Linked DNA regions of Homo sapiens. The protein of the gene in region 2 purifies or fractionates together with the protein of the main gene of each other region. This does not show direct contact. Each region holds a gene or a part of one and is shown on either strand. Other genes may lie near its edges.

What was found.
Region 1: the proteins of SVOP (region 2) and REEP5 purify together in Homo sapiens (affinity purification with mass spectrometry; one large-scale study listed by BioGRID and IntAct). This does not show direct contact.
Region 3: the proteins of SVOP (region 2) and FDFT1 purify together in Homo sapiens (affinity purification with mass spectrometry; one large-scale study listed by BioGRID and IntAct). This does not show direct contact.
Region 4: the proteins of SVOP (region 2) and LMAN2 purify together in Homo sapiens (affinity purification with mass spectrometry; one large-scale study listed by BioGRID and IntAct). This does not show direct contact.
Region 5: the proteins of SVOP (region 2) and TMEM33 purify together in Homo sapiens (affinity purification with mass spectrometry; one large-scale study listed by BioGRID and IntAct). This does not show direct contact.
Region 6: the proteins of SVOP (region 2) and LCLAT1 purify together in Homo sapiens (affinity purification with mass spectrometry; one large-scale study listed by BioGRID and IntAct). This does not show direct contact.
Region 7: the proteins of SVOP (region 2) and HS2ST1 purify together in Homo sapiens (affinity purification with mass spectrometry; one large-scale study listed by BioGRID and IntAct). This does not show direct contact.

Annotation. Positions count from the first base shown.
Region 1 is NC_000005.10:112,912,228-112,915,727, forward strand, and holds part of REEP5 (receptor expression-enhancing protein 5), read right to left. Parts: intron 1-3,500. UniProt on the Homo sapiens protein: Plays an essential role in heart function and development by regulating the organization and function of the sarcoplasmic reticulum in cardiomyocytes.
Region 2 is NC_000012.12:109,011,069-109,014,568, forward strand, and holds part of SVOP (synaptic vesicle 2-related protein), read right to left. Parts: intron 1-3,500.
Region 3 is NC_000008.11:11,809,241-11,812,740, reverse strand, and holds part of FDFT1 (squalene synthase), read right to left. Parts: exon of another isoform or gene 3,251-3,500; intron 3,075-3,250; coding exon 2,891-3,074; intron 1-2,890. UniProt on the Homo sapiens protein: Catalyzes the condensation of 2 farnesyl pyrophosphate (FPP) moieties to form squalene. Proceeds in two distinct steps.
Region 4 is NC_000005.10:177,334,669-177,338,168, reverse strand, and holds part of LMAN2 (vesicular integral-membrane protein VIP36 precursor), read left to right. Parts: intron 1-383; coding exon 384-463; intron 464-644; coding exon 645-806; intron 807-918; coding exon 919-1,033; intron 1,034-3,500. UniProt on the Homo sapiens protein: Plays a role as an intracellular lectin in the early secretory pathway. Interacts with N-acetyl-D-galactosamine and high-mannose type glycans and may also bind to O-linked glycans.
Region 5 is NC_000004.12:41,952,429-41,955,928, reverse strand, and holds part of TMEM33 (transmembrane protein 33), read right to left. Parts: intron 1,860-3,500; coding exon 1,730-1,859; 3' UTR 1-1,729. UniProt on the Homo sapiens protein: Acts as a regulator of the tubular endoplasmic reticulum (ER) network by modulating intracellular calcium homeostasis. Mechanistically, stimulates PKD2 calcium-dependent activity. Suppresses the RTN3/4-induced formation of the ER tubules.
Region 6 is NC_000002.12:30,520,246-30,523,745, reverse strand, and holds part of LCLAT1 (lysocardiolipin acyltransferase 1), read right to left. Parts: intron 1-3,500. UniProt on the Homo sapiens protein: Exhibits acyl-CoA:lysocardiolipin acyltransferase (ALCAT) activity; catalyzes the reacylation of lyso-cardiolipin to cardiolipin (CL), a key step in CL remodeling.
Region 7 is NC_000001.11:86,921,135-86,924,634, reverse strand, and holds part of HS2ST1 (heparan sulfate 2-O-sulfotransferase 1), read right to left. Parts: intron 1-3,500. UniProt on the Homo sapiens protein: Catalyzes the transfer of a sulfo group from 3'-phospho-5'-adenylyl sulfate (PAPS) to the 2-OH position of iduronic acid (IdoA) or glucuronic acid (GlcA) within the heparan sulfate (HS) chain and participates in HS biosynthesis.

The DNA.
Region 1 (3,500 bases), on a different chromosome or scaffold from region 2:
ACTCACACCTAAGACACATAGGTACATACTATGTGTTCTGTGCATGGTTCATAAGTAACTCAGTTGCTACAATTCAAACTAGCCAAATGACATAAAATTAAGTAATAGTATGTCTTCACAGCATTGGCTTTATTATTCAAACCAGTTGTACCAATATCAACTATTTACCAGAGACTGACAGTGTGGAAAAAAAAGCAGTTCATTAAAATATATCTATATATCCATTTATACCCATATATATTTTAATTTTATCCATATATATGGATAAAAAGCTTTAAGATGTCCTATTGGTAAAGAACAGAAAGGAATCATCTTCTGGTCCATCTGCTTTATATTTTATTTCTAATGTGGTAACTTATGTTTAATAGCAAATATTCCAGAGGTTAAGATAGGTTCTTTGGAAATTGAATATGAAGAACATGGACCATAATGTTTATAATCCTTTTTGTTATGGCAGACACATAACTTGACCATCCTCCATGCCCACCATGCATGGGATTGCTTTTGGCTGTATTTATCAGAGAGTATGATGTAGGAATTCTTAGTAATTCAAAATGGTTTTCCTATTATCAGTACCTCAAATAAGAAGGAAAAAAGAATCAGACATTTTAAGACATAAACACTAGTTCGTTTCCATGCCAATAAGGAAAATATTTTTCTCCTTCATAGAAAAAAAGAAGGCAGGAAACTATGCGTGATCAGAAAGTTACATATCTTTTTCACTGCAGAGTATATGTGCTTTTAAAGCAAGAGAGAAAACCAACAAACAGTACGAGAAAGACTAATGAAAGACTGACCGGGCACAGTGGCTCATGTCTGTAATCCCAACACTTTGGGAGGCCAAGGCAGATGGATCACCTAAGGTCATGAGTTCAAGACCAGCCTGGCCAACATGGTGAAACCCCATCTCTATTAAAAACACAAAAAATTGGTGGCAGATGCCTGTAATCCCAGCTACTTGGGAGGCTGAGGCAGGAGAATCGCTTGAACCCGGGAGGTGGAGGCTGCAGTGAGCTGATTGCGCCACTGCACTCCAGCCTGGGCAACAAGAGGGAAACTCCATCAAGAAAGAAAGACAGAAAGAAAGAAAGACAGACAGACAGAAAGGAAAAGAAAGAAAAGAAAGAAAGAAAGGAAAGAAAGAAGAAAGAAAGAGAAAGAAAGAGAAAGAAAGAAAAAAAGAAAAGAAAAGAAAAAAGATTACAGAGGCAGTGGAGTGAGAATAGCTAGAGCCTGGGAGGTCAAGGCTGCAGTGAGTCATGATTGCACCACTGCACTGCAGCCTGGGTGACAGAGTATGACCCTGGCTAAAAAAAAAAAAAAAAAAAAAAAAAAATTAAGATGAGTCTATAGAATACCTATAATGAAGTATAAAGAAAAAAATGCAGTCATTCAGTGGTCAAATCTTTTGGTGTTTAATTACAGTGATCTCATTTACCACTATCCACCATTTTGTTTTTAAATGCAAAATGGAAGAGTCAGTCACAGTCAAATATAACAATGCGGAATGTGGACAGACATCCCTACACTTAAGACTGAATTGGTCCCAACACACCTGTGACCTATGTCAATTAACTTCAGTTTGTGGCCTTGATTTCCACATCTGTTACAGGTGGCTATCACCCTAGCAGCTTAGTCTCTAAGACCCCTTTTAGCTAACATTTTATAACTCAAAACTGAATGTGTGTGTGTTTGTGTGTGTGTGTGTGTGCACCCAGGAGTTTGAGACCAGCCTGGGCAACATGGCAAAACCCCATCTCTACAAAAAATACAAAAAATTAGTACACACCTGTAGTCCCAGCTACTCCAGAAGCTGAAGTGGGAGAATCACCTGAGCTTGAGAAAGTCAAGGCTGCAGTGAGCTGTGTTCATGCCATTGCACTCAGCCTGGGTGACAGAGTGAGACCCTGTCTCAAAAAAAACACACTCAAAAAAACCAGGCTGGAGTGCAGTGGCGCAATCTCGGCTCATTGCAACCTGTGCCTCCTGGGTTCAAGCAATTCTCCTTCCTCAGCCTCCCAAGTGTGTGTGTGTTTTTTTGAGACAGGGTCTCACTCTGTCACTCAGGCTGAGTGCAGTGGCATCAACACAGCTCACCACAGCCTTGACTTTCTCAAGCTCAGGTGATTCTCCCACTTCAGCTTCTGGAGTAGCTGGGACTACAGGCGTGTACTAATTTTTTGTATTTTTTGTAGAGATGGGGTTTTGCCATGTTGTCCAGGCTGGTCTCAAACTCAAGCAATCCACCCATCTCAGCCTCCCTGCCTGTCCCCCCAAAAAAACTGTTTGAATGATTGATGGTAAAAAAGATTAATGCCAGGAGCAATAAAAGAGCAGATGCAAATCCCACTGGGACAACCCTTTGTCAATAAAACCAGTGGTTCTATAAGTATCTGTGTCAGATTGGTATCATAAAGTTTAACTTAATCTCAAGTAACCTCACAACTTAGAAGGGGAACAACCTAAGCTGCCTTTTCCTAGGTAAAGGAGGGCCACCTTAGATGCGGACCGCAGTCTAGACAAGTGAGCGATCCCTTAACTAGATCACTTGGTCTATCAGAGGCTGCAGGATATATATAGTAGACACATGACTCAGAGTGACTGATAAGCTCCACTCCCTGGAATCAGGAAAGTGTGCAAGTGACAGAATGAAGTCAGGGTACGTTTCTACAGCCCCCACTTATATTTCAGCTGCTACAAAAAGTAATTTCATTCACAATTTTGAAATTGTTTTAAAACTTCTGCCATATTAATTCATACTTCCCCAAAATTAATTGTTAATGTTATGAATCACCACTAAATACCTTAACATGTTATATTTGTATTTATACTTGTTTTAAATGCCATGTGAAAAAATTAAGTTGAAAACTGAGTCCTCATTCAAAGTCAGTCCTGAAAAAGAGAAGTCCAGGTCAGAAGGAGATGAGGGAGGCTACGACAGAAAGAAGGACAAATAGACTAAATCTCCAGGGCCTTCATAAAGAGAAAAAAAAAAGCTCATAAGGAACATTCCAGAATAGAGTATTAGAAATGAGATCCTCCTCCACAACTGCTTTAGAGCCCAGAAACTCTGATCATGAATAAATAATTTAAATCATTCATCTTATTTGCTTTTTAAAACTTTATTTTCTTTATGACACAGGCAAGCGGGCGAACCTTAACTGAAACGCTGGCTGTCATTATTTTACAAAATAGTCACAAGTTGTTATAAGGATATTTTTATTACTTTTTCATTTCTCCACAACACTTTCATCTTAAAAGAGTCCAGCACTCTTAGCAGTAATGTTAAGTGAAACAAGGACAGTAAAAAAGTTGAGGAAGGTTAAATGTTTAAATGCTTAAGATTTCAGATTTAAATTAAGTAAATTAAAGATTTAAATGTTTAAGTAAATTGCTTAAGTCACAGTTTGCAGAATGCCTGTTATATTTTTTATCCAAGTGCACATCGGCCAGAAGGCCACATTGGCTTGTGCTTCATACTACCCCAGAAGGCAAAGCGC
Region 2 (3,500 bases):
CATACCTGGCTAATTTTTGTATTTTTAGTAAAGACAGGGTTTCACCATGTTGTCCAGGATGGTCTTGAACTCCTGACCTCAAGCGATCCTCCCACATTGGCCCCCACCAAAGTGCTGGGATTATAGACGAGGGCCACTGCACTATCTTATATAAGGCACTCAACAATCAGACTATTCCCCTTAAGTCATTGAAACACACATTTCTTAAGTGAAGCTGGCTGGCATAAAATGTAAACATTTTTGAAATGAAGGGGTGTGAGCAACTCTGAGTGTGAGGTTTTAAAGGCTGTGGTGGGTTCCCTTGGGGGATGCCCAGGCTATTACAATAACTCCCTACTTTTTGCCTGAAGTGAGTGACAATGATGCCCTATCTCTCTTCCTTGTCTAGGGATCCTCCCCCTCCTTTGGCCCCACTAGGTCTCAGGCGGATGGGAGCCAGCAGGAAGTCTCACGTGTGCCTTTGCCACCTCCTCTGGTCCTGTGTCTCTATGCAGAGCTTCTCCCCTAGAACTCAAACACAAATACTTGCCTGGCTTAACATGGGCTCAAAGAGTTTACCTGGGACAATTTCAACAGCAATAGTCATATAATCATTGTAGCATTATTCATAGTTACCAACCTATGGAATCGACCTAAGTGTCCATCAAGAGATGAATGGATCAAGGAAATGTGGTATAAACACAATGGAATACTATTCAGCATTAAGAGAGAAGGAAATCCACTCATTTGCAACAACATGAACGAACCTGGAGGACATTGTGTTAAGTGAAATAAGCCAGGCACAGAAAGACAAATACTGCATGATCTCATTTATATGTGGAATCTGAAAAAGTCAAACTCATAGAAGCAGAGAGTGGAATGGTGATTACCAGGAGCTTGGTAGGGGCTTGGAGGAATTAGGGAGTTGCTGCAGGTAAAAAAAATTTCAGTTAGGCTGGGCGCAGTGGCTCATGCCTCTAATCCCAGGACTTTGGGAGGCTGAAGCAGGCAGATCACCTGAGGTCAGGAGTTCAAGACCAGCCTGGCTGACATGGCAAAACCCCGTCTTTACTAAAAATACAAAAATTAGCCGAGTGCAGTGGTGGGTGCCTATAATCCCAGCTACTCAGGAGGCTGAGGCAGGAGAATCGCTTGAGCCTGAGAGGTGGAGGTTGCAGTGAGCCAAGATCACGCCACTGCACTCCAGCCTGAGCAACAGAGCGAGACTGTCTCAGAAAAAAAAAAAAATCAGTTAGACAGGAGAAATAGGTTCAAGAGATCTATCGTACAACATGGAGACTATAGTTAATAACAATTTAGAGTATTGTATACTTGAAAATTGCTAAGAAAGGAGATTTTAAGTGTACTCACCACAAAAAAGGATGTGAGATGATGCATATGTTAATTAGCTTGATTTAGCTATTTCACAATTACACGTATTTCAGAACAACATGTTCTACACCATACATATGTAATTTTTATTTGTCAATTTAACATTTTTTAAAATATTAAAATAATTAAAAAAATTTCATGTAATCAGTAGTCAAACTGCTGTTCTCCCAACCTCCCTGATTTAGTCAAAGAAAATAAGGAAATACGGCCAGGTATGGTGGTTCAAGCCTGTAATCCCAGCACTTTGGGAGGCCAAAGCAGGTGGATTGTTTGAGTCCAGGAGTTTGAGACCAGCCTGGACAACATAGCGAAACCCCGTCTCTACCAAAAATATAAAAAATGAGCCAGGCGTGGTGTCATGTGCCTGTAGTCTCAGCTACTGGGGAGGTTGAGGTGAAAGAATCAGCTGAGCCCAGGAGGTTGAGGCTGCCGTGAGCCATGATTGTGCCACTGCACTCGAGCCTGGGCAACTGGAGTGAGAGCCTGTCTTAAAAAAGGAATATGGGGAAGCAGAAAATAGACATGAAGAAACAAAGCTATGTCTGGTCTTTCCAGGTAGACTGGGCTACACAGTTGCTAAAACTTAATAGTGGTTCCACTGTCAGGGAAAATAACACAGCCGACAGACAGATTTTTCTGGTTTTTCATTCATGAAGTGTTCCTAATCATTTGGCCTGTCTATATTGGTCTACACTGGAATCCAGTAGTAGGTGAAACTGACAGCAATATCCCACACACTTGGGATACATCAGATCCCACCCTTGTGAAACTCTCATGAGGGAAGACAAACACTAAACACAATAAATAAGCAAATTATAGAGTTTATTAGCGATGATACGTGCTATGAAAAAAAGAAAAAGGAGAATATGGTATTGGAGGATAGAGGAAGAAGGCTGCAGCTTTTTTTCCAATTATGATTAAATACACATAACATCAAACTTACCGTCTTAACCTTTTTTTTTTTTTTCTGAGACAGAGTCTCACTCTGTCACCCAGGCTGGAGTGCAGTAGCACGATCTTTGATTACTGCAACCTCTGCCTCCCAGGTTCAAGTGATTCTTATGCCTCAGCCTCCTGACTAGCTGAGATTATAGGTGCATGCCACCACACCTGGCTAATTTTTGCATTTTTAGTAGAGACGGTTTTCACCATGTTGGCCAGGCTGATCTTGAACTTCTGGCCTCAAGTGATCTGCCTGCCTTAGCCTCCCAAAGTGCTGGGATTACAGGCGTGAGCCACTGCACCCAGCCCAATCTTAACCATTTTTAAGTATACAGTTCTCTGGCATTAAGCACGTTCACATTGTTGTACAATCATCACTACCATCCATCTGCAGAACTCTTTTCATTTTGCAAAATTTAAATTTAAATTCAGTACCATTAAACACCAACTCCCCATTCCCTCTCCCCCCACCACCGAGTTCCTGGAACCACCATTTTACTTTCTGTCTCTATGGATTTGACTGCTCTAGGCACCTCATATAAGTGGGATCATGCTGTATTTGTCTTTTTGTGACTGCTTTATTTGCACAATGTCTGCAAGCTTCATCTGCATTGTAGGACTGCCCAAATTTCCTTCCTTTTTTTTTTTTTTTGAGATGGAGTCCCACTCTGCTGCCCAGGCTGGAGTGCCACGGTGTGATCTCAGCTCATTGGGACCTCCATCTCCTAAGTTCAAGCGATTCTCGTGCCTCAGCCTCCCAAGTAGCTGGGATTACAGGTGCATGCCACCACACCTGGCTAATTTTTGTATTTTCAGTAGAGACTGGGTTTCACCATGTTGGCCAGGCTGGTCTTGAACTCCTGCCTTGGCCTTCCAAAGTGCCTCGGCCTTCCAAAGTGCTGGGAATACAGGCATGAGCCACTGCACCCGGCCAAAATGTCCTTCCTTTTTTAAGGCTGAATAATATTCCAAATGTGGATAGACCACATTTTGTTTCTTGAAAATTGCTAAGAGAAGAGATTTTAGCAATATTGCACAATGGAATATTATTCATCCATTCGTCAGTCCATGGGCATGGGTTTTCATGTTTGGCTATAGTGAATAATGCTGCTGTGAACATAGAAGTACGAATATCTCTTCAATACCCTGCTTCCCATTATTTTGCATCTATAACCAGAAGTGGAATT
Region 3 (3,500 bases), on a different chromosome or scaffold from region 2:
TTGAGGCTTATTCCTAAATTCTGCAAGGCCTGGGATAAGAGGACAAATGGAGGCCCACATACTATATGTAGCTAAAAATTTAAAAATGATCAATCGAGCTAGTAACTTAAGTAAAATATATTGTATCCTCCTGCACTGACAAACTTATCTTTGTAACAACCTGGTTGATTCAGGTTTGAATTTAGAATTCTTAGTCCCTCAGAGTTTTATTCCAGAATGCAGCAGGGCACAGACAGCTGATCCCCATATCCCAGGCTCTTCCCTTCCACTGCTTCCTGAATCCCGCTCTCTCCAGCACTGGGAGGCACCTCACATTCATTTGAGAGGATATCCCAGCCCTCGGTGCCAGGATCCATCCACAACACTCCCCAACACAGCCCTTGGCCATCACTCAGGCCCAAGGGCACAGTCAATGGTGGCACGTTCCCACCTGGAGGAGATGGACTGACCTTAGGAAATAGACTGTGCGGACGCAGACGTGGGCTCAGGGATTTGGGGCAAGGAACTCCAGATGTCCAGAACGTGGTACAGAAGGAGAGCCCACGAGAGCTGAACAAGCACATTCCCATGGCCCCAGTGATCCCTCACCCCTTTGGGAGTGAGGGGGCCTAGAATGGGGCACTCTGAAGTGAGGAGTTTCACTTGCCCCAGTCTAAGAGCAGTACTGTGTGTGAGGCCAAGGTATCAGTCCTCTTTCACACTACTTGTTCCATCCTGGGACCTCTTAGCCAAAAGCTGATTGCAGGCCTAGCCCCAGACAACTGGTTTCAAAGACATACTGAGCTATATCAGCACATACACAAATCACTCCTTAAGAAGACAAGGCACTGTTAATTCCCATACAGTCCCATCTCAAACTGAATCACAGACTGGAGGGACCTACAACTCAAGTAGCTTAAAATTATATATGCACGCAAAACACACAACTTAGTACATCTTCATATTCGTAAGGATACAAAAGGTGAACAACAGTGAAAACAGCCGTGCCTGGCTTACGCCTTCTGCTCCCTTTTACTCTTCCCGGGGCAACTGTGCTTTCAAGAGGATGGAATCTCTAACTCTACTACCCAAAAAAGAAAACGATGAGTTCAGTGTTCACATCTGAAACCTTCCAGAACTAAGCATTATTTTTCCACTGGAACACTGTATGAACACAGGAAGACACTGAAGTTTCACAAACATGTTGGAATATCATCTGGAAATCTGACGGCGATATTCCCCAAAATTATGTTAGCATTCACACACTTTCATATTCCCTCACTTCTGCTGAGGGGATAGGGCTGCCTTGACTTAGCAATACCTAACACATTTATCCCATGCCCCAGAAATTTTTTAATTATTATGAATCCACTCAAGTCAAATGTAATTTGGCTGTTTCTAGAGGCTAGGTCCAGCTAGAATAATATTAGTTGTTTTTAAGTGAGAATGCACTTCCATTATAAATGGGGTATTACTACTTCCTCTGCTTCAGCAGAATTCAGAGGCCCATCAATGAATCGCCACAGATTTCCCATCAAAGGAAACCCATCCTCTGGTCATCAGGTGTCCTGTGAGAGTCAAATCACCAGGACCTTCCCAGGGTTACAGTTCTAATTCTCACCCAGCTAGTCGTCATAAATTTTCTTTCTTCTCTTGAATTGTACTGTATAAACTCGAATTATTCTTCAGCTATTTTCTTCTCATTTGTATTATGTTGTACTATATTTGGGCTTTGGTACTTAAGGTCTGATCTCAGCAATCTGAAACAGCCTTTGCACCGCAAGAGTCTTCCCCAAACATTCCTTTTTTTTTTTTTTTTTTTTTTTTTAAATATTGCTCCCATTATGCCCAAGAATCAAAGATTCTTTTGTTTGGGTGGAGGACTCTCTGTCCACTTAGCTCCCTCCCAACTCAGCTACAGATTAGGTTTGTTTCAATAACATAAGGACTGTTCTCCAAAAGCTCTGGCAACTGTGGACAAAAAGGGCTTCTTCGAGCTATTACACAACATGTGACTTTGCTAAATCAAACCTTTATTTATAAGATATGGAAGAATCAGTTATTTGTGTGATAAGACATGCGAATTCTAGGATAGTAGGACCTAGGCAGATGTCCACATGAACTTGAGGGACTTTAAAAATCTTAGGATTTTAACTATAACCCACTTTACTCCAACAAAATAGACCAAATAGCTAATACTTACAGAATACTTACCCTGTACCAGGCACTAAGTACTTTATATGTGCGAAATTAATCCTCTCAGCTCTAACTTTACAAACGAGGAGACGGAGACACAAAGCAGATAAGGAACTTGCCCAGGATCACAGGTGAAGTGGCAGAGGCTCGCCCTAGCTGCCAACAGACACCGCCCCCATGCCAGGCTGCTGCCCATCGTGAGCAGCAGTCCCATGCTACCAGGCTCCGGGTAGTCAAGAGGCCAGCAGTGTTACAGGTAGGCTGCATCATACAGTCGGCAGGCTTTTGTGAGCTAGCCTGAGAATCTTTCACAACACTAAAATTTGACTGCGTCTTCCCACAGGAAGAAACACTGGACTTCCAATACTGATAATAACAGCAGTAGCTAACATTCTAAGAGCATTACCTACGTTAATTCTTTGAATCCTCAGAATACCATGAGGTAGGTGTTATTATTACCCCTATTTTACAGATGAAGAAACTGAGGCACAGAGAGTCTTTGTAAGTAACCAACAGTTTAGTAAGTGGGAGATTTGAGATTCCAACCCAGGCAGCCTGGCTTCAGAGTCTTGGCTACCGGAGTTTTTAACCCTCACATTATGCTGCCCTCAGAATGCTTATTTAACCTTTCTCCACATGTATGGAGGCTACCGGACAACCACGTTAGCAATTATGAACACAACAGTCCGTAGACAAGATGCGTAACCCCACTCACCGTTGGGAAGTCCTCCAGCACCTGGCGATCCTTCTCCTTGCTCTCCATGAACCGCCAGTCTGGTTGGTAAAGGAAAGAGTGAAAGTTGTGTAACAGCGGGACCTTCTTTTCCACACTGATGGTCATGTCATCTTCCAGTGTGTCCAGAGCTCGGAGAACCAGATAAAATATGCACACTGCGTTGCTGTAAAAAAGGGAAAACTATTAATATATTGGAACAAACAGCCAAAGATTTTTTATTTTAAAATAACTTGTGCCTGGCCACTTTCTAAACCCATCTCACCCTTAACTCTAAAGAACTATAAGGATATCCAACGCTTTTCATACTTAACGAAAGTTACATTAGTTTTCCTTCCTTACATGAGAGTAATGAACTTCTGTAGTTTATTAAAAAGCCTACTAGTTGAATGTCACCACTACTCCCAGAAGTGAGTTGCATTTAACCAATGTAGAACTATGGAGACCAGAAGACCAAACGTTTAGACCGAACTAATATGTAGCAAATAGAAAAGAAAGTCAAAAAACACAGTAACTTCTCAGTATAAATACGATCATACATAAAGGCAACTGGTCTAAGTTCATGGGTGTAATGTGCACAGAGGCAGCTTCA
Region 4 (3,500 bases), on a different chromosome or scaffold from region 2:
TGGCCCACAGACCCTGAGGTGTTTCCTTGGTGGCTCTTCACAGAATGTTTGCTGCCCCTAGTATAGAGGGTAGAGCCTCCTGGGTAGGGCTGTCCTGTGGCTCACTGTTTTTTGTAGGCCAGGTACCCCCTTGACACCTGACATCTGCCTCAGTCCCCTCACAGTTCAGCCTTCAAACTTGAGTCCTCTGTGTCATATGCCTAGACCCCCCACTTCTGAGGAGAAAGCCTCAGCTTTCTCCTTTCACGATCCCTTCTCTCTCGGTGAATGGCCAGTGGGTTGGGCTCTCTTGCCCCCACCCATGTTGGCATTGCTTGCCTTTTAGGTACCCATGGGACGGCTCCTGTTTCTCCCATTCTGAGAGCATCTGCTTATAATTCTAGGGCCTGTGTTTGGAAGCAAAGATAACTTCCACGGCTTAGCCATCTTCCTGGACACCTACCCCAATGATGAGACCACTGAGGTAGGCCCCTGCTCTATCCTGCTGAGCAGGAAAGGAAGGACTGGGCAGTCGGCTAGAGGAGGGGGCCCTGGGACTTCCATGGTCCCAGCACAAGAGGAGCCTCCAGGGATTGGGGTGGTGGGTGCCCCTGCTCGCCCCACAGGCTGGGCTGCTTGTGGAGTAACCGATGTCTTGGTCCCAGCGCGTGTTCCCGTACATCTCGGTGATGGTGAACAATGGCTCCCTGTCCTACGACCACAGCAAGGATGGGCGCTGGACCGAGCTGGCGGGCTGCACGGCTGACTTCCGCAACCGCGATCACGACACCTTCCTGGCTGTGCGCTACTCCCGGGGCCGTCTGACGGTGAGCAGGCTAGGCGGTGGGGGTGGCAGCTGGTGGCCCTGTGCTGGTCCCACAGAGGCTCAGGAGGGCAGGCTGCTGTCCTGCGAGGTGCTTAGCGTGCTGGGCCCTGCAGGTGATGACCGACCTGGAGGACAAGAACGAGTGGAAGAACTGCATTGACATCACGGGAGTGCGCCTGCCCACCGGCTACTACTTCGGGGCCTCCGCCGGCACCGGCGACCTGTCTGGTGAGTGGGCCGGGCCAGGCGTTGGTTCCCAGCCCAGCTCACCCTGAGGGACTGGGAGCTTTCCATGCAGTTGATTGCCTGCCTTCATGTGGTTTCTGAGCTCACCTGGCTGTGTTCCTCCTCCTCCTTTCTTCTGTAAATGGCCTGTCCGGGCCTCAGTTCCTGTGGTTTCTGGGCTCACCTGGCTGTGTTCCTCCTCCTCCTTTCTTCTGTAAATGGCCTGTCCGGGCCTCAGTTCCTGTGGTTTCTGAGCTCACCTGGCTGTGTTCCTCCTCCTCCTTTCTTCTGTAAATGGCCTGTCCGGGCCTCAGGCCTTGAACGGTCCCTTGGCAACCTTCCCCATCAACAGGAGGCAGCGGGTCAGTTAGATTTGGGCAATGTAGATTCCCAGATTTATCTCCAGCCCAGACCGCTCTGGACCTGCTCAGCCCTTGTGCCCACAGCTGAGGCCACATCTTGCCCATCGGGATGTCAGTGGCACCTGTGCCCCTCTATTTGCTTGCTGTCTTTCCGGACCCTTCTTTCTCTCACATGGCACCTCTGGTCCATCAACAGTCCCTGTGGCTTTATTTTCACAGCACGTCTCACCACTTCCCTCCCCTCCCTGACTACCTGGCGGCTTCAGGCCACCAGTGTCTCTCACAGGAGTCTCCCAAGTGGTCCCCTCCTTCACCAGCCCCCAACAGTCTCTCGTGAGCACAGCAGCCGTGTAATCGCCTTCAGTAATCGCCTTCAGCCCGTGTGAGGCCTCCTGCTGCTCTGCGCAGAGCTCTGCAGGGGGCGCCAGGGCCTCTGTGCCAGCCCTGCCACCTCTGGCTCCCTGCTCACTGCTCCCCCTGCCTACTGTGGCTTCCAGCTGCTGCCTGGATGCGCCTGTGCCCTCCTGCCCCGGCTGTTTCACCCTTGTCTCCTAGGGCCTTGCTCAGATGTTACCTCCTCAGTGCGGCCTTCCCTGATGCCCTCGTGGAATGTCGTGCCCCCTCCTGTGTCCCCAGCCCACTCCCCAGCATCTTTGCTGGCTTTATTTTTCTTCATAATATTTACCATCTTTGAGTCTACCGAGTAATTAATTTTATTGTCTCTGGCCCTCCTGCTCAATTGTAAGCTCTATAAATGGCTGTTTGGCCCAGGGCAGGTGCTCAGCGAGCACTGGGGTGCCTCTAACCTGCTCAGGCCTCACTGGTCACCAGGCCGTGGTGGCCCTTGGCTGTGGTTCTCGGTTTCTCTTTGGGGCCCTGAGCAGGTGCCAGGCCCAGGGCCAGCTCCTGACCAGAACTGGCACGTGACACGGGGGACCTGACATGGGCGGTTTATCCTCAGGATGACCCATTCCAGGGCCTGTAGTCTGCCCACTGCCCAGGAGCCTCCTCTCTCAGCATGGAAGTGCTTGGGTCCGCTCAGACCCCAGAACATCCATTGTTTGGGGGTTTTTCAGTCACATACCCAGCAGAGGAGAGAGGTCTGGTAAGCACCCTTCCTGCCAACCAGCTTTCATCATTTCCAGCTCGCGCCTGGCTGGTTTCCCTCCTGCCCCGGGTTGCCTGGAACTTCATCACACTGTTTCAGCCCTTGTCTTTGGAGGGTTCTTGATAGGAGCAGAGCAGCACCAGTGCTGTGGCCGGTGGCAGCTCTCACAGCTGTTGGGAGAGCCCAGCACAGAGTGGAGGAGGCACCATGAGGGGAGCCGTGTCTGACCACTGGTCAGGGGTCATCAGTGCCAGGCACCTTACGGGTGATGTCACCTGATGTATTTTTAGGCAGATGGCCATCTCGTTCCCTTTTTACTCAACCATTGGGAGTTTGAAAACTGAAAGGATTTTTCCTAAGATACGAGCAGGAAGCAGCAGAGCCCAGATGGGAACTGGGGCCTGACTCCAGGGCCGGTCCTTGTCCTGCAGGGCCGCTCGCCGTCTCCAAGGGCTGTGCATGCTCGGCTCTCACACTGTGTGCCTGGCCGAGCTCTTGCTCATTAGGTCCCCCCTTGGCTCCAGAGATTCCTGCTCCCTTCAACAAGGCCTTTCCTCAGATTCCAGTCCCAGGCTGACCAGGACCCACGTGTCGGCTTTGAGCCTCAGCCTCCTCATCTCTACAATTGGGTGATCCATCAGCGTCAAGCCAGGGCTCTTCCCTGTGCATGCCATTGGACAGAGCCTTTCCCCAGTCTCCTCAGGCACAGCTGCTGACCTGCGTTAGGCTCAGGCCCTTAGCTGGTTGCCGAGTTGTTCCCCTGCAGCCTGTATGTGGGTCTCTGTGGCAAGAATGTCTGGTGGCTCCTGCCCTTGGGACCTCAGCCTTCTCAGCCAGTCACACAGCGACTGTTGGTCTTTCCCGGGTCTGTTTTTGAGCACTTATTCTGCAGGCAGGCCATCTTCTGTGTGGTGTAGACCCTTCTCATGTACTTGCCATGGCAACCACACAGATGGAGATCATCACTCCTCTACATGTGCGGAACATGAGCCTCAAAGAG
Region 5 (3,500 bases), on a different chromosome or scaffold from region 2:
CTTTTTAAATTATAGGAAAAAACTAACAGCTTCAAAATAAACATGACTTCAGCTGCCAAAATTTCTTGATATAATTCAAGACTTCATTTTTTAAAACATAATTAGAAATCAACATTATGTTTACTTAACATTATAGTCATTTTATTGCTCTAGAAAGTTTAGTTTCTAAAACCATTGGATTACTTACATAGTGACAATAAGACTAGCCACATACACAAAATCAACTGTATGAGGCTGCTTCTCCAGCTTAGTGGACAAATATTACAAAAATACAAAAATAGCTGATTATAGTTAAGCTATCAAGTATAATTTTTCATGTATTTATCCTAAGAATATCCCCTTTTTATAGATAAGGAGATGAACAAAAATAAAACTAATGTTACTGATAAATTACTAATGAATGTATTTGAGAAATCCAAATTACATGCAGACAGAAACTGGTCACAAAAACCATTACATTTCTCTATACTAAAACTGTACAATGTTTTAAACATTTCCAATCATGCAACGGTAATGAAGATCAGCATGAATTTTATAAGAGTTGATGGGAGTTCAATGAACAGGATTTAACACATTTTACAACCCAAATCAAAGTTGAATAATACATCCAATTCCCCTAAATTTATCTATGCGTTGAGACTGAAATGCACATTATTCCCCCACAACTCCTCCCCCTACCCCATTCCCAATCAATTACCTTACCTATAAAACCTTCCATTTAACCTTTTAAGTCAGATTTGATGGGTAAACATGTAATCTACAGTATACTCTCCATTATTATTTCAGGATAGACACACATATAGTCAGATGCTGAATCTTCATTACATTCCTTTCAAAAGGCATCTAAACTGTTGCAATTGTCTATGAAAATTCAAGCCTAAGAAACCAAGAAAACTGGCAGTCAAGATTCTGAACTAGGTAGTTCTACAAACTATAATACGAATAATCTATATGTCCACATTAGTAAAAGAAGGATTTCCTGTTTGAGAAATGTTTCTCAATGGCTCTTTGAAGGGAAAGCTGTGTCACTACTGCTTTCTGCTTTCAATGGCTAGGTGACCCCAAATATTTATCCAACTGGCTAAGAGGCTTACAGTTGAGCCTTTTAAAAAATACTCAAGGCCACAGAAGTACTTACGGAAATAAAATTTTAGAAGATCATAGTTTAAGATACATAGAATTCTTCTTATAATGGTACATTCAAAACACATCTGTCCTAACAAAGCAGCATAAAACCAATTAAAAAAACAATTTGAAATTAAATACACTGAGAAGTGTTAAAATCATTAACCAAAATTACTGAATGGTAGAATACTGTCTCAAAATGTACTGAATTCACATATGTGTATCACCATAATGAATTCATGCCAGATATAAACTCAGGTTACCAATTAGGTTGAAACAAATTTTAGAGCTATTTTTTTTACATGAGAAATTAATGTACTTCATGATATAGGCACAACAGCATCTTTTTAAAAAAACTGGTATATTTATCACTAGATACAGACTTCTTTAACCATTAGCAACACAGCGCAGTAAAATTTTCTCAAAACTTTTTAAGCTTGATTTAACATGCCAAGAAAATGATTATTTTTCCACCGAGATGCATTTATGTAAATTATGTAAATTGGATTGAGGTCAGTGTAACACCTGGAATTTACAACCCCTAGCAGAAGTACCAGCTGCTAATAATGCTTATACTATATTTGTAGCTTAACTAGATGTTAAACTATGGAACTGTTGGTGCCAATCTGCTTATAAAGGCAATGCTCTGGAGACAAAGTCTTCTCACAAACAGTGGGCAAGCAGGTTTCATTATTATGTGTTCAACAACAATCCTCAGTTCATTAAATAAGGTCCTGCAAGACAAAATAGTTTTCTTTGAGAAACACAAGGAAAAAGCAATACACAGGCTTACCTCATTTTATTGTACTCCATAGATATTTCATTTTTTACAAATTGAAGGTTTGTTGCAACACCGCATACAGCAAGACTATCAGTGCCACTTTCCAACAGCATGTGCTCACTTCATGTCTCTGCGTCACACTTTGCCAATTCTTCCACTATTTCAAATGTTTTCATTATTAATCTATTATGGTGATCTGTGATCTGTTCTGTTACGGTGATCTCTTTGGTGTTACTATTGTAACTGTTTTGGGGCACCACAAACTGCACAAATATAAGATGAAGCAGTTCATGAAGGCCATTCCTGATTGGTCTCTTTCCCTCTCCTCAGACCTACCTATTCTTTGAGACACAATACTGAAATTAGGCCAATTAATAACCCTGTAATGGCCTCTAAGTGCTCAGGTGAAAGGAGGCCTCCCATGTCTGTTACTTTAGATGAAAACTAGAAATGATTAAGCTTAGTGAAAAAAGCATGGCTAAAGCTAAGACAGGCCAAAAGCTAGACCTCTTGTGCCAAATAGCCAAGCTGTGAATGCAAAGGAAAAGTTCCTGAAGAAAATTAAAAGCCCATTTCTGTGAACGGATGAATGATAAGAAAGCAGAACAGCCTTACTGCTGATGGTAATGCTATTGCGCACTTAGCAGACTACAGTAGAGTGTAAACATAACTTCTGTATGCACTGGAAAACCAAAAAATTCATCTGACAGCTTTGTGATATTCACTTTATTGTGGTAGTCTGGAACCACTCCCACAACATTTCTGAAGTATGCCTCTAATGCTAAACAAATACTCATGAAGGAATCTACCATAGCCATTAGAATTTGAAGTAAAAGAATAACTAGAATGCATTGTAGAGAAAACACAAAATACAATGAAATTCTCAAACAACACCTACATCTTTTATGGGTGGAAACACTCATTTAACAAAGGTATTTAATAAATGGCTATCTCTAAAACCTCAGATTAAATTTTAAAAATTATATATATATATTTTAGAGTCACATCATTTTCACATTTAACTTAGGCAATTTCAACTAGTTTTTTAAAACAGAACAAGAAAAAATATACTACATGGACAGTGTTTTTTATATATTTTAAAATATATAACATGGACAGTTATATTTATTCACCCACTATTTCCTTAAATGTACATATTGTCCCTCAGAGATTTCCTCTTCTGTAAAATAATTCTGAGTTGTGGTGAAATTTAAATGCAATATGGAAGATGCTCAATAAATGTTACTTCCCAGTTGGATCAATACACTGAACTATGACTCTTTTATGCCTTCCGACTAAAGCCCAAGTACTCGGTGTCACACCCAATACCCTCCACAATCTAGTCTCAATCTAATTTTCTGCCCCATCTCCTGCCACTCCCTGCCCTCGCTCCTATCATCAACTTATGTTGCATGTTTGTGCCCAAAACCATGTGGGCTTTGCCTATGTCTTAACTGTGCTCACTGCCTACAAAGTATTATTACATACTGTAGATATCACATATATTATACAGGCTAGTATACACAAAATCATGTATACTGTACTGACATTTATAAGTGATATGAAGGATCATCAAGGGTAATTTTAACCATTC
Region 6 (3,500 bases), on a different chromosome or scaffold from region 2:
CAGACACGCGCCACCACACTCATCTGATTTTTGTATTTTTAGTAAAGACACGGTTTCACCATGTTGGCCAGGGTGGTCTGGTTCTCTTGACCTCATGATCTGCTCGCCTCAGCCTCCCAAAATGCTGGGATTACAGGCGTAAGCCACTGTGCCCAGCCGACTATTTTTAAATTTCTACTGATACTTGACAGTACGTGTACAAAATCCTTCAAAGTACAAACTGAATAAATATCAACTAAGAGCTGGCTTTTTGCTAAACTCTAGACCTAAACTTTAAAGAAGTGGGGTAACGGAGTAATAATGGTAGAGAAAAAGGCCACTGGAAAGCAGCATGCTGAACAATTCCCAGAGCTCACACATGGGGCCTAGAGTGGTCTGTGTTACCACCTATCCTCAACTTTGTTTTCTCTGAGGCTCAGGTCCTCCTCTTTGCGTTGATGACACTATAGCTAGCTTCTCCCCAGAAAAAAAAAAAAAACCTACGAACATCTTAATTTGGTATTGTTAATGCCTACTTCCTTTTATACACCCACCCCGCCCCCCAGTCCTGCAACGCTGCTGCTCTGTTTGAAACCCTGTAACTACCGTTTTCTATCTACTGTTTTTTTTTCTGCCAATTAGTGATTAGCTAGCTCTGTTTAACACTCACCCCTCAACTCCCTGCAGAGCTACACTTCACGTTGTATCCATATATAATGCTTCCCTTATCAAGGCTCTGGCATGCTTCTTCCTCACCAATTTCTGATTTGATGTGATTAACAGAAAAAAAATAAATTAGCTATCATATAATAAAATATTTTCATTATGCAGTGATGAAGCTGAGGCTCAGGAGAGTTAAGAAGACTTTCCTAAATCCACACAACAAATTAGTAGCATCAAATCTTTTCTGCTTACTGCTTCTTCTGCTATATCATGCTCTCTTTCTCCTGCGAAGGGGCCAGAAATTAGCCCTGAAATATGTCTCTAAACTCAGACTTAAGCAGGTAGAAAGGTGTGTGTCACATGAATATACTGGGATTACTCAGACCAAATCTAATCTAAAATTACTTCTATCCTACTTCTATTCCTTCCCTTTCAATCATTTGTTGATTTTCAATGATTCAATAAACATACAAAGATATCCCAATTACCGTGTGCCAGGCACTATGTTAGTCATCTGGGGATTACAACAGTGAATATGACAGAAATTGCAAAGCTCTCACAAATCTGATGGTCTCTCCATCTCTTCCTTATGAGCTCCTATGTGACTCTGCATTTAATCCAGCCCTATTCTTTATCTTCTTCCAAGTCTCAAGAGTTTGATGGACAAACTTGGTTCCAAATTATGCTAGCTATACACTTATTTGGAATAGCTAAAAAAAAAAATTTTAAAACAATAAAACCACTGACAATACCAGGAGCTGACAAGGATATGCAGCAACCAGAACTTGCAAACATTGCTGGTGGGAATGCAAAATGGGATGGCCACTTTGGAAAAGTTTGGTAGTTTCTTAAAATCCTAAATATACACTTACAATAAAACCCAGAAATTCTACTGAATATCCAAGACAAATGAAAATGTATATTCACACAAAAACCTATACGTAATTATTCACAGCAGCATTATTCATAATTACCAAAAACTGGAAACCAGCCAAATGTCAGTCAGGGAGAATGGATAAACAAAACCGTAGTACATCCACACAATGGCATACTACTCAGAATAACGACAAACTACTGATCCATGCAACATGTTGAGTTAATCTCAAATGTATTATGCTGAATGAAAGAGGCCAGACTCAAAAGATATGATTTTAAAATCTTTTACTGGATTATTTCATTTATATGACATTCCAGACAAGGCAAACCCAAAGGATAAGGAAACAGATCAGCGGTTGGCAAAGATTACAAGTAGGGAGATGGTTTGACTACAAAGAAACAACACAATATAAGTTTAGGGGGTTGGTCCAGCGGTGGCTCATGCCTGTAATCCCAGCATTTTGGGAGGCCAAGGGGAGCAGATCACGAGGTCAGGAGATCGAGACCATCCTGGCCAACATGAGGAAACCCCATCTCTACTAAAAATACAAAAATTAGCTGGGCATGGTGGCGCGTGCCTGTAATCCCAGTTACTAGGGAGGGTGAGGTAGAAGAATCGCTTGAACCTGGAGTCAGAGGTTGCAGTGAGCCAAGATGGTGCCACTGCACTCCAGCCTGGTGACAGAGTGAGACTCCCTCTCAAAAAAAAAAAAAAAAAAAAAAAAAAAAAAAAAAGAAGAAGTAGTTTAGGGGGTTGAGGAAACTGTTCTATTTCCTAGTTAGGTCACATTACAGCAAAGCTGTCCTGATCCAGACCCCAAAAGAGAGTTCTTGGATCTCGCCCAAGAAAGAATTCAGGGTGAGTCCACGGTGCAACCTGAAACCAAGTTTATTAAGAAAGTAAAGGAATAAAAGAATGGCTACTCCACAGACAGAGCAGCCCTGAGGGCTGCTGGTTGCCCATTTTTATGGTTATTTCTTGATGATATGCTAAACAAGGGATGGATTATTCATGCATTCCCTTTTTAGACCTTATAGGGTAACTTCTTGACATTGCCCTGGCATTTGTAAACTGTCATGGTGCTGGTGGAAGTGTAGCAGTGAGGACCACCAAAGGTCACTCTTGTCGCCATCTTGGTTTTGGTGGGTTTTGGCCAGCTCCTTAACTGCAACCTGTTTTATCAGCAAGGTCTTTATGACCCGAATTTTGTGGTGACCTCCTATCTCATCCTGTGACTCAGAATGCCTTAACTGTCTGAAAATGTAGCCCAGTAGGTTTCAGCCTCATTTTACCCAGCTCCTATTTAAGATGGATTTGTTCCAGTTCACACATCTCTGACAGTCACAAGACTATACACATTTGTGAAAATCCATAGAAAGTATATTTTTTAAAAAAGTGAACTTTACTGTTTGTAGATTTTTAAATAAATTTTTAAAAAATTATGCTATGTATATAAAAATCTGACAATATTTACTATTCTCTTATAATACGGGGAATTCTAATTTTCTGGATTATTTCAACTATAGTAACACCTAAAATGTATATAGCTTTTAAAATATTTCAGGCACTGTTTCATATATTTTACATGCCGACCTGTTCACCAGTCACAGCAATCTCATAATGTAGGTATTTTCATTACCTTAATTTTACATATAACGATACTGAGGCAGCAAGGGGTTAAGGAACTTACTTAAGGCTACACAGCTAGTAAATAACAAAACTGGAACTTTAAGCCAGGTAACTTGGTGTCAGAGTCCACACTCAGTCTGAAATGTTACACTACGCTTCCTTTTCAAGCCATGTATTACATCTGTAGTTAAATATACACCTATTTTTAAATAGCCTATAAAATAAAGATGTTACAATTATAAACTAAATTTTTAATACCTCATACAAAACTTATTCTGAATTTTAGAATTTATACAAACTTAGTGAGATAGCCTTATGTCTTTCTTATCTTACTGTTACTGGCAGGTGTTTG
Region 7 (3,500 bases), on a different chromosome or scaffold from region 2:
CAAGCCTTGGCAGCTTCCACATGGTGTTGAGCCTGCGAGTGCACAGAAGTCAAGAACTGAGGTTTGAGAACCTCAGCCTAGATTTCAGAAGATGTATGGAAACACCTGGATACCCAAGCAGAAGTTTGCTGTGGGGCGGGGCCCTCATGGAGAACCTCTGCTAGGGCAGTGTGGAAGGGAAATGTGGGGTTGCAGCCCCCACACAGATTCCCTACTGGGGCACCACCTAGTGGCGCTGTGAGAAGAGGGCCACTGTTCTCTAGACCTCAGAATGGTAGATCCACTGACAGTTTGCACCGTGCACCTGGAAAAGCCACAGACACTCAATGCCAGCCTGTGAAAGTAGCCAGGAGTGGGGGGCTATATCATGCAAAGCCAAAGGGGTGGAGCTGCCCAAGGCCATGGGAGCCCAACTCTTGCATCAGTGTGACCTGGATGTGAGACATGGAGTCAAAGGATATCATTTTGAAGGTTTAAGATTTCACTGCCCCGCTGGATTTCAGACTTGCATGGGGCCTGTAACACCTTTGTTTTGGCCAATTTCTCCCACTTGGAATGGCTGTATTTACCCAATGTATCTAGGAAGTAACTAACTTGCTTTTGATTTTACAGGCTCATAGGCAGAAGGGACTTGCCTTGTCTCAGATGAGACTTTGGACTGTGGACTTTTGAGTTAATGTTGAAATGAGTTAAGACTTTGGGGGACTGTGGGAAGGCATGATTGGTTTTGAAATGTGAGGACATGAGATTTGGGAGGGGCCAGGGGTGGAATGATATGGATTGGCTGTGTCCCCACACAAATCCCATCTTGAATTCCCCTGTGTTGTGGGAGGGACCTGGTGGGAGGTAACTGAATCATGGGGGCAAGTCTTTCCCATGCTGTTCCCATGATAGTGAATAAGTCTCAAAATATCTGATGGTTTTAAAAAGAGGCATTCCCGCCAGGCGAAGTGGCTCACACCTGTAATCCCAGCACTTTGGGAGGCCAAGGTGGGTGGATCATGAGGTCAGGAGATCAAGACCAGCCTGGCTAACACAGTGAAACCCCATCTCTACTAAAAATACAAAATATTGGCCAGGCGTGGTGGCAGGCACCTGTAGTCCCAGCTACTCGGGAGGCTGAGGCAGGAGAATGGCGTGAACCCAAGAGGCGGAGCTTGCAGTGAGCCGAGATTGCGCCACTGCACTCCAGCCTGGGTGACAGAGTAAGACTCTGTCTCAAAAAAAAAAAAAAAAGGCGTTCCCCTGCATAAGCTTTCTCATTTTTTGCCTGCCACCATAAGATGTGACTTGCTTCTCCTTGCCTTCTGCCACAGTTGTGAGGCTTCCCCAGCCATGTGAACTGTAAGTCCAATTAAGCCTCTTTCTTTTGTAAGTTACTCAGTCTCAGGGCGTCAAAACGGGCTAATACAGGATGTTAAGGAAAGAAATGATACATAATTTTTTAAAGACCTATATTAAACTTCTAGAAGGGCAGGGGGAGGAGTGGGAGGCAACGCCTGAGATAAAAAATAAACTGGGTAATATTAAAAGTGGATTACATACTGCAGAAGGATTGGTGAATTAAAGACCTAGCAGTAAAAACTATCTAAAACAACACACACACACACAAAAAGACTGAGAATGATGAATAGAACATCACTGAACTGTAGAACAATTTCATGTGGTCTAATGTAAGTGTATTTTGAGTTCCTGAGAGGAGAAGCAGCATAGAAAAACTAACGTGAAGAAATAATAGCCAAAAATGTTTAAATGTAATAAAAACTGTAAACTCACAGATCCAAGAAGCTCAACAAACCCCAGGCACAAGAAACATAATACAAGGGCACAAGAAACATAATTTAATAATTAAATAATTAAAAACCTAGTGAAACTCTTAAAAGTAGGCAAAAGAGGAAAAATAAAAGACACGCTACATATAGTTGAACAAAGAATGATGGCAACCTTCTCATCAGAAACAATGCAAGCCAGAAGACAATGAAGCAATATCTTTAAAGTACTGAAACAACAAAAATGTCAGCTTAGAATTCTATACCCAACAAAAATATCCTTCAAACACTATAGCAAATAAAGACTTTTTCAGACACACAAAATGAAAAGAATTCATCACCAGTATATTTTTAAGTGTAAGTAATGTTAAAAGAAATTCTTCAGAGTGAAAAAAATGGTACCACATGAAAATCTGCATACACACACACACACACACACACACACAAAATGAAGAACACTGGGAATGGTAAATATGTCAGCAAATTTTTAAAAAATTTTTAAACATTTTATATATTTTTAAAATATAAGTTAAAGCAAAAATAATAATGTATTGTAGGACTCATGTATAGAAGTAAAATGTATAATGACGATAGCAAGAACCCAGAAAAAAGTGGTAATATATTAAGGTTCTTATACTACACATGAAATTCTATCATGTATACCATAAACCCTTAAGCAACCACTTAAAAAAAAAACAACAACAAAGAGCACTGCTAGTAAGTCATCAAATTAAAAAATGGAATTTAAAAATACCCCTTTAATCCTAAAGACAACAGAAAAAAAGGAATCACAGAACAGTTAAGATAAACAGAAAACAAATAGCAACTCACGAATTTAAACCCAACCACATCAATAATCACATTAAGTGTTCTAAACATTCCATTAACAAAAGAGATTGTGAAATTAGATGAAAGATTAGATGCTGTCTACCAAAAATCCACTTTAAATATAAATACACAAGTAGGTTAATATTAACAGGATGGGAAAAGATATACCACCTGACACTAATCAAAAGAAAACTGAAGTGTCTGTATTAGTATTAGACAAAGTAAGTATCATAGTCCATTGTGTGGTACTATAACAAAATACCTGAGACTGGGTAATTTATAGAAAACAGAAATGTATTTCTTCACAGTTCTGGAAACTGAGAAGTCCAAAATCAAGACACCAGCATCTGTTGAGGGACTTCTTGTGGCATCCTCACATGGTTGGGGGTAGAAATGGCAAAAGGGGGACAAATGCTGTCTTCTTACGTAGAAAAAAGAGAACACACTGCCACAAGCTCTTTTATAACAGTATTAATACAGTTATGAGGGGAGAGCCCTCATCACCTAAACACCCTCCACCTCCCGCCCCAATACTGTTGCATCGGAGATTAAGTTTCCAACATGTGAATTTTGGGGGAGACATTAACACCACAGCAGTAGGTTTCAGAGCAAAGAATATTACCAAGGATAAAGATGGTATCTTGTATAAAAAAAAGGGTTGGTCCATCAAGAAGACATGACAGCCTAAATGTGCATATACTTAATCACAGCACTTCAAAATACATGAAGCAAAAAGTGACATAACTACAAGAAAAACAGACAAATCCACAATTATCAAAGATTTCAAAACCCCTCTCCATAACTGATGAAGAGGCAGAAAAAAATCAAGAATACAAAACACCATAACAATACTACCAACCGACATCTACAGCATACTTCAGCCAATAACAACAGAATACATAT